2 separate regions of the Homo sapiens genome follow, and region 2 is linked to region 1. Evidence: fine-mapped expression QTL. A gene starts in region 1. The other region holds a variant in brackets. All regions are shown on one strand. Distances are from middle to middle. Region 1 holds the start of SLC16A7 (solute carrier family 16 member 7). Region 2 has its middle 28 kb from the start of LINC02448.

Region 1 (5,388 bases):
TAGAGGCCTAAATCATTTTCTATGGGCAGGATCACAGAGAAAGATGAACTTAACCCTTATTTGTTAACAAAGAATCCTTAAAATGCTATAGAAGTGATGATATATTTGCTGGGCATTAAAGGAGGAAAAAAGGTTTAGACAAGTTTGATATGGAAAAGAGGGCAGTGAATGATAAAAGACAGAAAAATGTGAGAAGATTGTGTATGACTGAGGAATGAAGAAGGGAGAAAGAACCTAAACCACAAGGATGTGGGTATATAGTAAAAGACATGTGGACTTCATGAGTATATATGTGATGTACGTATTCACAGTTTGCTCATCTGTGGAATATGAGTTGCTAGAATGCTAAGTGTATTGCTATTTGTTTTTCCCACTGTTATTTCAGCTTATGAATATAAATCAAGGCAAACATTTTACCAGAGCATTCCAAGTTCTAATCATATGGCTTATTTTTTCCCTAAATTGTATTTTTTTCTCAATTTCTTAACAATATTAAACTGTAAGTCATAGGATAAACTGGCTGAATTTATTCTTAGCTGATTCTCCCTCCTTTCAGATACCTTTCTAGTCCAATCAAATTTTACATAACATACCTAGCTATCACAACAAAGCAATTTAGAAATGAGTTCCCAAATACTAACTCTGTGACAGTAGGTAAATTAGATCCAGAGTTTTAATTGTTGAAAAAACAAGACTTAAAAAGAAGGTTACGATATCATGCTATAAGTAGTGATGTTTGGCATTCAGCAATAGGTTAAACAGGTCAAGAACATGGGACTATAAGAAAAAAACAACAAAAAAGAAAAATCAAAGAGAAGGAAAAGGGAGAATAGGATCAAAATTCAGAAAGCATATGGTCTTTCTTCTTCCTCTTCTTTGACAGGAAATAAAAGTGATGAATGAGCAGGAAAAATATCAATAGCAAACACTCAAGACTATGACCTTGAAATGTGCCTTTATGTTGTTTCTTTTAAATGTTTAACTTTTTTTAATTAAATGAAGTGTTTATAGTCACTGCTAGACATTTCATCATTATCAAAGGCCTATTATGTCTTATACAAATGTCTATTTAAGCATTTTTAGCTTAAAAATATAAAATCCTTTCTGTAATTTTCTGCCTTTTTTTCATTTTCAAATATCATTCTTTCAATAAAATTATCTTCCAGTAATTTTGATGTTATTAATCACGATTATTTTTTCATCTTGTATTATGCCTACCAGCCACTTCATGTATATTATTTCACTTAAATCTTATGAAATCAACACGATTGATATTACTTTTATTTCATAGCTACAGAAATTGAAATTCAAATTTCGTCCATTACAACAGACTAGCTGTGGCAAAGACAATGTGAATTTACCCAAATGACTTAACTCTTTTTATAAATTCGTAAAATGTGAAGAATCATAGAACACACCTTAAAATGATTGTGAAATCAAGGAGGAGAAAGCTAGCTAAACTGGTAGACAAACTGCAATAGGACTTGTCAAGCCAAAACCTACAATTATTCTTTTGGATAGTTTCTTTTTCTCTAAAGTGGCAATTTAACTTAAAGATATTAAAGAAACCCAATCTATGGGGTTACTTAAATGTTCTCTTCCAGCCCTTCCTCTTTCCAGTTTTACCAAGAAGCACATTTTAGACAGGGGAAGAGACCAAACCAATGACAGCAGAATTACCATTATCTCTAGCACTATTCGTTGTCAAATAACTAAATGCTGGTTTGAAGAACTAAGTAATTTGAGAAATTAAAAATGAAAGGAATTATAAATGATTTGAAAAAAAATCCTTCTTATTTTTAATGTTTTTTGGTGCTGTTTTCTATGTCCTTCCTCCTATGGTGTCAATTATATTTTTTTCCGTGAAGTGATTTGGTTGGTGAGTCTAATCTCCAACAGTGCCCTACCTCTTTCTCCCAAAAAGGCCTCAGTTGAAAAATGGCTCAACACTTTCCCTGCAAGCTCACAATGAGGATCTCCTATTCTCCCTGCATTCGGCCAGACTCTTCTTTTTTTGCATGCTTTCCTCTCCCATGCTTGGGTTGCACAGAGCTACCGCACATCTGTCTTCTAGGTCAGGCTACAGAGTACTTCGGATACAGCAAGTTACGACCCATCTGGAAAGACAGATCTACCTGCCTTTTGGCTTTCTTCCTTGGTCAAAACTAAAATCCGAAGTGGAGTGCCCCGAGCGATAGAGAAAGTGCCTATAGCTTTGACAGCCGCTTGGAGCATGCTCAGTCGGTCTCCAGGCACCGGGAGGCGGCTCCCCCCCACCACCCCCCGGGCCGGCCTCCACCGCAGCCTGTCCGGCCCCCACCCCTGGCGCGCGCTCCTCCGCACCCACAAGGGCGTTCAGCAGCCGCGCCTCCCCTTCCCGCCACCGCCTCCTTCTCCGCTGGCTGTGGCGGGCGAGGACACGTCAGGGGCCATAAATAAATAAATAATTCCATTCACCCGTTGACAGCGAGGCGAATCGGCTGCGGTTTGCTGGGAACGGAGGGCTGCAGCGCCCACCCTGCGCCAGAGACCAGATAAAGTAAGTACAGCTGGGGAGGGAGGGGAGAGGAGGAGGAGGAGGAGGAGGTGCCGGCTAAGAGGAGGGCGAGCCTGCGTCTGCGACCCGAGCTGCCCGCGGAGCCGCACGCGTGTGTGCAAATAATGGCCAGCCTGTGACAAACGTGCCAACGCAGAGTTGGCCAGCGAGCCCTTATATAGACAAAAAAATCCCGAAGCGGCCGCGGGAGCAGAGCTCGCGTCAGCCAGTGCGCGCCGACAGCTGCCCGGGAACTGAGGGGGCGCGCGGGGTCCTGGGCAAGGAGCGCCTCGCGTGCTTTCGGCCAGGAGGTGCTCACGCTCTCGGCTTTTACACCGAGACTCAGCGTGGCGCGGTGCACCCCAGTCTCCCTGGCTCACGGGACTCCGAGGGCTGCTTCCAGTGCGGCGTGTCTCTAGTGCGCGCCCCGCCAGCATCCGGCCCCCGAGCCCCCTAGGGTGGCGTGGCTTCATTGCCGCAGAAGGTGGAGGCGGGGGTGGAGTGTGTGGAGAGAACGTCTTCTCTTTGAGCAGATGATCAGGACAGGAAGAGGCTGTGAGGGGAAGACGAAATACCGGGGGATGGGGGGGTTGTCTTTCTTCATTTTTGGTCCCCAGGAAGGATGGCAGGGGTGGAAGCAGATGGAAAACTATATGCGGGCGAGGCCTGAGCCCAGGCAGAAAGGGACCTCTGACTTGGCAAGGGTTCAGGAGGGCCTGAGCCTTCTGGTCTTGCTGGGCCACTGCACCACATTGGGGGCGCCAGGCCCGGTCAGGTGGCGCCACAGGCTGCGAGCCCGCTCACGTGCGAACTGCCTGTTTTCTCAGCGGATGCTGCATCGCGGCGCCCTTCTCCACCCCCTTTTCTCCTCTACTTCCGCGAAAAGGATTGCAGACTGCCTTGGAAAGGGCGGTCGTGCCCAGTGCCACTTTCCCGGTAGGGCTGAGGAGGGACTTCTGTAGTTCCAATTCCAGGGAAATTAAAATTTTACACACACACACACACACACACACACACACACACACACACACACACACGAGACATAGAAGAGGAAACGAGGAGTGGTTTCTCTACAATTGTTTTTTGATTTCCTTTCCTGTATTATTTCGTGTCCTCCTTCCCTCTTGGGTCCCAAAGGAGATGCGGCAGAGGAATAAAATAGCGGACAATGATGAAAGTGATGGGAAAAAGACTGGACCCAGAGGAAAGAGTGACTACTGGATGCCATTTCCTGTCACCCCATGCTTCATGGCTAACCCCAGTCTGAACTCAGAGGGTTGCAAACTTTCCACAGACAGGTTAGCTTGAATGTGTTGTGTTACTGGAACCACAAGCACTAAGTATGCATTTGGTGGAGTGTGGCTGAAAAATGAGAGTTGGGTGGGGACAGCAGAGGGCAAATGAGGGTTGAGCAAAGTGACTAATATTTAGCTCTGGTGAAGCAATCCTAACTCCAGGTTCTACTTCTGACTGAGCAGATTACATTTAAAGCAATCCAAGTGAGGGACTGAATGATCTCAGTGGAAAGGAAAGATTACAACCGTAAGAAACTCAGTGTATTGTGTAACAACTTACAAACTCAGAAACTATTTTTTGCAAATACAACAACAGTTTGCAGTTACATATTACTTTTTTCCCCCCAAGGCATGTTTGAATAATAAGTGATCTGAAATTTTAACATCTGTTTCCCGATGTTCAAATTAGTGTATCCTTCTATAAATGCTCAGTTTATTTCTAGACATTCATTTGCTCTTTGATAATGTCTGGCTTATATTTTTGGCTTTGAGCTCTTTTAAAGGGAAGGAGAGCAACATTACCTAAATAAACCTCCCTTGTCTGGAGTCATATTCCTGGATCACGGATCTGAAATAAAAGGCATCTCCAGAATTTGCTTTTAATTCTGTATTCATCCACCAAACATTTTTGAGACATTCACATGGAAAAAGGGAATTAACTTTAGAACAGATTGGTTCTGCACTTTTGTAAGGTTGAGTAATTGTTTAACAATCTGGGCTTTACCTTTTTCTTGTCTATAAAATGAGATTGGTGGTACCCACTCTGAAGTGATATTGGGAAGAATGAAGTGTGTGGTAAGTACCTAGAATACAGACGGGCTATATTTGAGCCCCTATAATCAGTCTAGACACCCTACCAGGGTTGCCAAGATGAATGAGGCTGTAATTCTGCTTTCAAGAAGTTCTCATATAGTCAGTCATTCAGGTTAATCTTTCTTGTATCCCATTTGCCTTTTAGTCCATTTTTTTTCTCCTCTTGATGGAAGAAACATATATCCAAGTAACTTGAAAGGAACTCCACAGTTGTAAGAAATGTTGGTAAGATCTGCTAAAAGGCAAATTTGAGAAGAATGTCTTTTCTCAGGAACCTGTATTCAGCCCATTTTTTGTCCATTAATAGTGATCCTTAATGAATAAAAACAGGTAATGAAGGATTTTTCTTCATGTTATGAGGGCAGGATGATCCTTCTCTGAAGATTATCTTTGTCAATGAATTGATTTCCATTATTTGAGAGAAGAGTTTGAGTTGCAGTTTCTACTACACCTTGGGCAAACCAATCCACTCACTCCTAAGAGTATAAAGTAACTGTAGTATATAATAACTATAATGACAACTCTGTAATGCTCACCATATTCCAGGCACTGTGCTACTACTGTCTGATAGCATGTAGCAACCATTTGAGGTGGATCTGTCCATATCCATATTTACAGAAAAAAGAATTTATGCCCAGAAAGTTTCATAGCTTATTCAGCTGGTACAGTTAGTAAGTGGTTGAGCTGGGGCAAGCACCGATGCGATCTGTTTGGCTTTAACCACTGTGTCATATAGCTTCTGCC
Region 2 (5,388 bases), 100 kb before region 1:
GTAAGATACAGTCTTCAATGCCAGTAACATTCAACTATCTTTGTTTTATCTTTGCCCCAAGAAAACAAGTATTTCCTGGCTATTGAGTGATGTATTCATTGGTGTTGGACTCAAATCTAAGAAATCTAAAAATGGAAAGTTCGAGCTACTGAGCAACATGTTGGTGATGGCCCGCATTTTCAGAGTTTGTTGGAGTAAAGGATACATGACTACCTCCCATAGAATAAAAGTGGGTCACTTGAGCAAGCACTGCAATCTCGGGCTACCTTGGGTCATGTCCATGAGAGGTCTGAGGAGACCCTGGCAGAAGGCAGAGGGGAGCAAGCTGCTGGGTGCCTCGGGGGTGAGCAGATATATACATGACCAATGAGAACAGACAATGCGATGCATTTCCAAGATCTGCAAAAGACAGATTTCCAGAATTCCACAGTCTCTAGAAAACTCCCGAATCCAATCCAAAATCAAGAAAAGGTGTTCGTTTTAAACCTCTGCCAGACTAAGAGCACTAACAGCTCACAACAATCTTGGTCAAATAGGAATATACCTGCCACTCACCTCTCCTGTGTCTCAGAGGAATTTGAGGGGCGAAATGGGGGCAAAATACACCATAGGCAGGAAAATAATGATAAAGGCTACTAGGCCTTTCTTTTCCATTGCAGTTAGTACCCCTGATATAGCTATGTGCAAAAAGTGGCCAGAAATCAAAGCATGAGTGATCAAATGTAAAAGTTATTTCCAGGAGAAGATAAAAGCCTCAAAGCTGAAATCTGGACATTAGTGGTAGGTAGCAAAATAGAAATGGAAGAAGACAACTTGTCAAAAATGCCTACTTTGTGCCAGTTTATATACATTATCTGATCTTTATGGTAATTGTAGGAAAAGGATGTTATAGTACCCACTTTATTATTGATAACATCAGGCCTCAGAGAGGTTAAGTTCCACTTCTGAGGTCAAACATCTAGTGATAGAGACAGGATTGAATCCAAATCTCTCCAACACTTTTTCTTTGCACCCCATAGAGGACCTGAGGCCACTTACTTAGCAAGTCTTGACGACCTTTTTTATTTTCTACATCTTCACCCAAGACCCTCCTGCTATCTACCCATTCTATAGAATCAGACTTCTACTTTTCCCTATTTTTAGATGTATTTGGAGAATGTAGTCTATCATCCTGGCTTTTTCCTTTTAGAACAAAAGAAAACAAAGCAATGCAGAAAAGGACATGAACACAGTGTAGGAAAAAAGAATGCCATGGAAAGTTAGCCCTCCCAGTATCTCTTTGACTTTTTATTCAGGTATCTTCTCCTTGATTCACTCTACTCCAGACACACTGACCCTTACTTGTGAGCCAGTCAAGCATGGTTCCACTGCAGAGTCTTTGCACTGAAAGCCTTCTCTTTCCCCAAATGATCTGCATAGCTAATTCTCTCATCTCTTGCCTTGAGGGAGGTGCTATCATCCTCATACCAACTGCTCTTTTAGCCCTTTACTGATCATCCTACTTAAAATTATAACTTGCTCCACACTCAGTTACTCTGATCCCTCTTGCTTTGCCCAATTTTTTTGTTTTATTTTTCCCATAACACTGATCACCTTCCCACACTTACTTATTCTTTACGTTTTTTTTACTTCCTGTTTCTTCCTATCACATGAATATAAGATCTTTCGGACTGTGGATCTGTCATTGTTTTACCTCAAGCATCTAAAAGAGTGCCTAGCACATGGTAGGTACGTGCCACAGATTTATTAAACAAATGAATGACTGAATACTGATTTTTACTCCCTACCATAGCTATCACATACTACTTTGACTTCCTGGCATCTTGCTTTTTGCATTGCTTGCTGGTCTTCCACTAATCATCTTGGAAGGGGGCATTCTTAAGTTTTATCCCATCATACAGTTCTGGGTTTCAGCTGCAGAGTCCTTGAGTTTGCCCACCCCAGCACTGACTGAGCTCCAGCCCTCATTGTAATAATGTTTGTCAAAGTCAAGTGACAAAAAAAATCTTAATTTTTTATACCACTTCTATTGTCAACAAACTTTAGGGATTTATTAATTATGGCCACTGCTTTTGATAAGACATATAAAATTCAATGAAAAAATACTGTTTTACCACAATGAATTTTGATATGTGAGTAAATTCTAGTATTTATTAGGTAAGCTGTTTTCCAAATTCTACATATTGATATTTGATTTCACTTTATAATATAGGCATAAACTAATGTTTGCATGTAATATATGGTAGCTGATTTTGCATAAAACTCAGAAATAAATGTGTGTCTGAGATTGAAATAAAAATAAATTTAACACTGTCTATGGATGTGAAATTCATAATCCGTGATCCT[A/T]CAATGAAAGATTTGTAGAGAAAATTATCTATTCAAGTCCGTTCCCATGTGTATCCATTTAGTGAAACTTTACTTGCAAGAATCTGTAAAAATGCTAATAAACCACATTTCTCCCAGCTTAGGCCTAGCTCTTTATTTGTTTCTGGCTTTGAGATAACTTTGAATAGGCAATATGGTGTCACCATGGGTAATGAATGATGCATGTATAAAATAGTGACCTTAAAACAGCACATTTCTCTTAAAGGAATCAATTTACACACCATTGCTACTTAAATTTTATGAGCAGTTATGTATCAGGTCTTTCCTATATAAATGATAGAAAATCTATTTTAATCAACATTAATTTCCATGAAATTGTAACTTTGCTAGTGTCCATTAACAAGAATCAACTATATGTGGGAAATAGTTTTAAGAAAACAAAGATTAGGGAAAAATGCAGGAAAGATATAATAAAAAATGCACTTTGCTTCAAAGTTAAATGTTTTGGAAAAAATACAGAAAATCTCAGCAATGTGCCTGGGGCATAGTAATACTAGCAATCTCTAGCAGATTCTCCCAATGTAAGCACATTTAGAACAAATGGTTGTAAATTAGAAGAAACTCTAGTAAGTCTCCAATGAAGACATAGTATTATAGCACAGGTAATTAGCCATGATGCATATTTTTTAGTTCCCTCCCTTTAAATACTTTCTTTCTTCCAATTTTAATCTTACAGAATCACAATTTGATGAACTATTAATTTTTTGCTTACCCGTGTAATCCAGAAATTCCTAGTGAACAATGCTACAGGGGTAGATAAAATGTATACATTTAAATTTATACCCTGGATTTGCTATTGTTTGCAGATATCCTCCACTTTCTTACCAAAACAAAATAATGCCAGAAAGACTCTAGCCCTGAATGAACCTAACCATCTACTTTTTTTTATCTTTTGGATTCATATGGAATATTATGAAAGGGATCCAATCACAAAACCAGGTTAACTAGTATCACTATAAACATTGTCTCGCAAAAGTCAAATGAGTACTTACCACCACGTGAAAATTCCACTGTGTTTCTGTATTTTACTCTCTCATTATCCCTGGCCACTATTTTACTTATTCTTAACTCTCCTCTCATCTCCTTACCCACCACCATCGCTGCACCTTTCAGGTGATGCCTTACCTTATGCATCCTGTCAAAAGAAGAAATCAGACAGAAAGGGGCTCACTTTCCCTTGCTCTGTACTGAGGCTCTTGGTCAAATCCCAATTCATCACTTACTAGATATGGGACCTGTGCAAGTTGCTTATATTTTTGTGTCCCTCTATAAAATGCTGATAACAATACCAGCCTTAAAAGTTATTAGAAAGATTAATAAATTACATTAAAATATTATTAAAATAAAATTAATATACACAAAAACATATAACAGAAAAGGGATCAGCACATAACAAAAACAATGTGTAAGTTATCATCATCATTTATTATTCTTTTCCATTAGAACAGAAAAAGTGATCTTTTGTCAGAAATTCTCCACCTGTCCCCATCTTTTCCAAAAGTTTATGCTTCCTTTATTTATTTTTCCAGATCATCAACCTTCCCCACTTCACGTACCTTTCCCATTATTATATGAACAGGCTCTTCTATATTCTTTCTCTAAAAAGTAGTTTCCCTCAATTCCAAGTCTTCAATTTTTACCCTCATTCTCAACAAACTTTTTCTGACAAGATTTTGAACAGTAGAAAAGGCCTGAAAATTGTTCCTTGGGTTTGACCACGTGGAGAACACTCACAGCCCTTTCTGAAGCAGTCAAGACAGCCGACCATCCCATTCTTGAAACCTTCTCTTTTCTTGGCATCCATAACACTAAAACCACCTTTGCAAAAATTATAACGGTGAGAAAATTATGGCAGTAAATGACATCTAATCTAACCCTCCCGCCCCTGGCATCTTCTCTTCCCTTAATCGTTCTCGGGCTTAGGCTAACTTTGGAAAGCATTTAGTTTACAGTTTAAATGATTACAGCCCACATTTTCTTAATCCAGTCTATCATTGATGGGCATTTGGGTTCGTTTCAAGTCTTTGCTATTGTGAATAATGCCGCAATAAACATACGGGTGCATGTGTCTTTATAGCAGCATGATTTATAATCCTTTGGGTATATACCCAGTAATGGGATGGCTGGGTCAAATGGCATTTCTAGTTCTAGATCCTTGAGGAATCGCCACACTGTCTTCCACAAAGGTTGAACTACTTTACAGTACCACCAACAGTGTAAAAGTGTTCCTATTTCTCCACATCCTCTCCAGCACCTGTTGTTTCCTGACTTTTTAATGATCACCATTCTAACTGGTGTGAGATGGCATCTCATTGTGGTTTTGATTTGCATTTCTCTAATGGCCAGTGATGCAATGTTCATCAGGGATATTGGTCTAAAATTCTCTTTTTTTGTGTCTCTGCCAGGCTGTTGTATCAGGATGATGCTGGCCTCATAAAATGAGTTAGGGAGGATTCCCTCTTTTTCTATTGACTGGAATAATTTCAGAAGGAATGGTACCAGCTCCTCCTTGTACCTCTGGTAGAATTCAGCTGTGAATCCGTCTGGTCCTGGACTTTTTTCGGTTGGTAAGCTATTAATTATTGCCTCAATTTCAGAGCCTGTTATTGGTCTATTCAGGGATGCAACTTCTTCCTGGTTTAGTCTTGGGAGGGTGTATGTGTCCAAGAATGTATCCATTTCTTCTAGATTTTCTAGTTTATTTGCCTAGAGGTGTTTATAGTATTCTCTGATGGTAGTTGGTATTTCTGTGGGATCAGTGGTGATATCCCCTTTATCATTTTTTATTGCATCTATTTGATTCTTCTCTCTTTTCTTCTTTATTAGTCTTGCTAGTGGTCTATCAATTTTATTGATCTTTTCAAAAAAACCAGATCCTGGATTTATTGATTTTTTGAAGTGTTTTTTATGTCTCTATCTCCTTCAGTTCTACTCTAATCTTAGTTATTTCTTGCCTTCTGCTAGCTTTTGAATGTGTTTGCTCTGGCTTCTGTAGTTCTTTTA

The links. PIP is the estimated chance that this variant, and not a neighbour inherited with it, causes the effect. A credible set is the group of variants that fine-mapping cannot tell apart.
Region 2: its variant is the best candidate, but not a certain one, in a credible set for the expression of SLC16A7 in whole blood (INTERVAL, PIP 0.66).

Annotation. Positions count from the first base shown.
Region 1 is chr12:59,593,698-59,599,085 of GRCh38, forward strand. It overlaps SLC16A7 (solute carrier family 16 member 7), which reads left to right and starts at 2,332. Exons shown (of 6, transcript NM_001270623.2): 1 at 2,332-2,539. RefSeq lists a silencer at 2,261-2,330 and enhancers at 2,801-2,940, 2,991-3,140.
Region 2 is chr12:59,493,428-59,498,815 of GRCh38, forward strand. No RefSeq gene overlaps it. Among named protein-coding and RNA genes, the nearest start is that of LINC02448, 28 kb to the right of the region's middle. The variant A/T (reference allele first, on the strand shown) is at 2,347.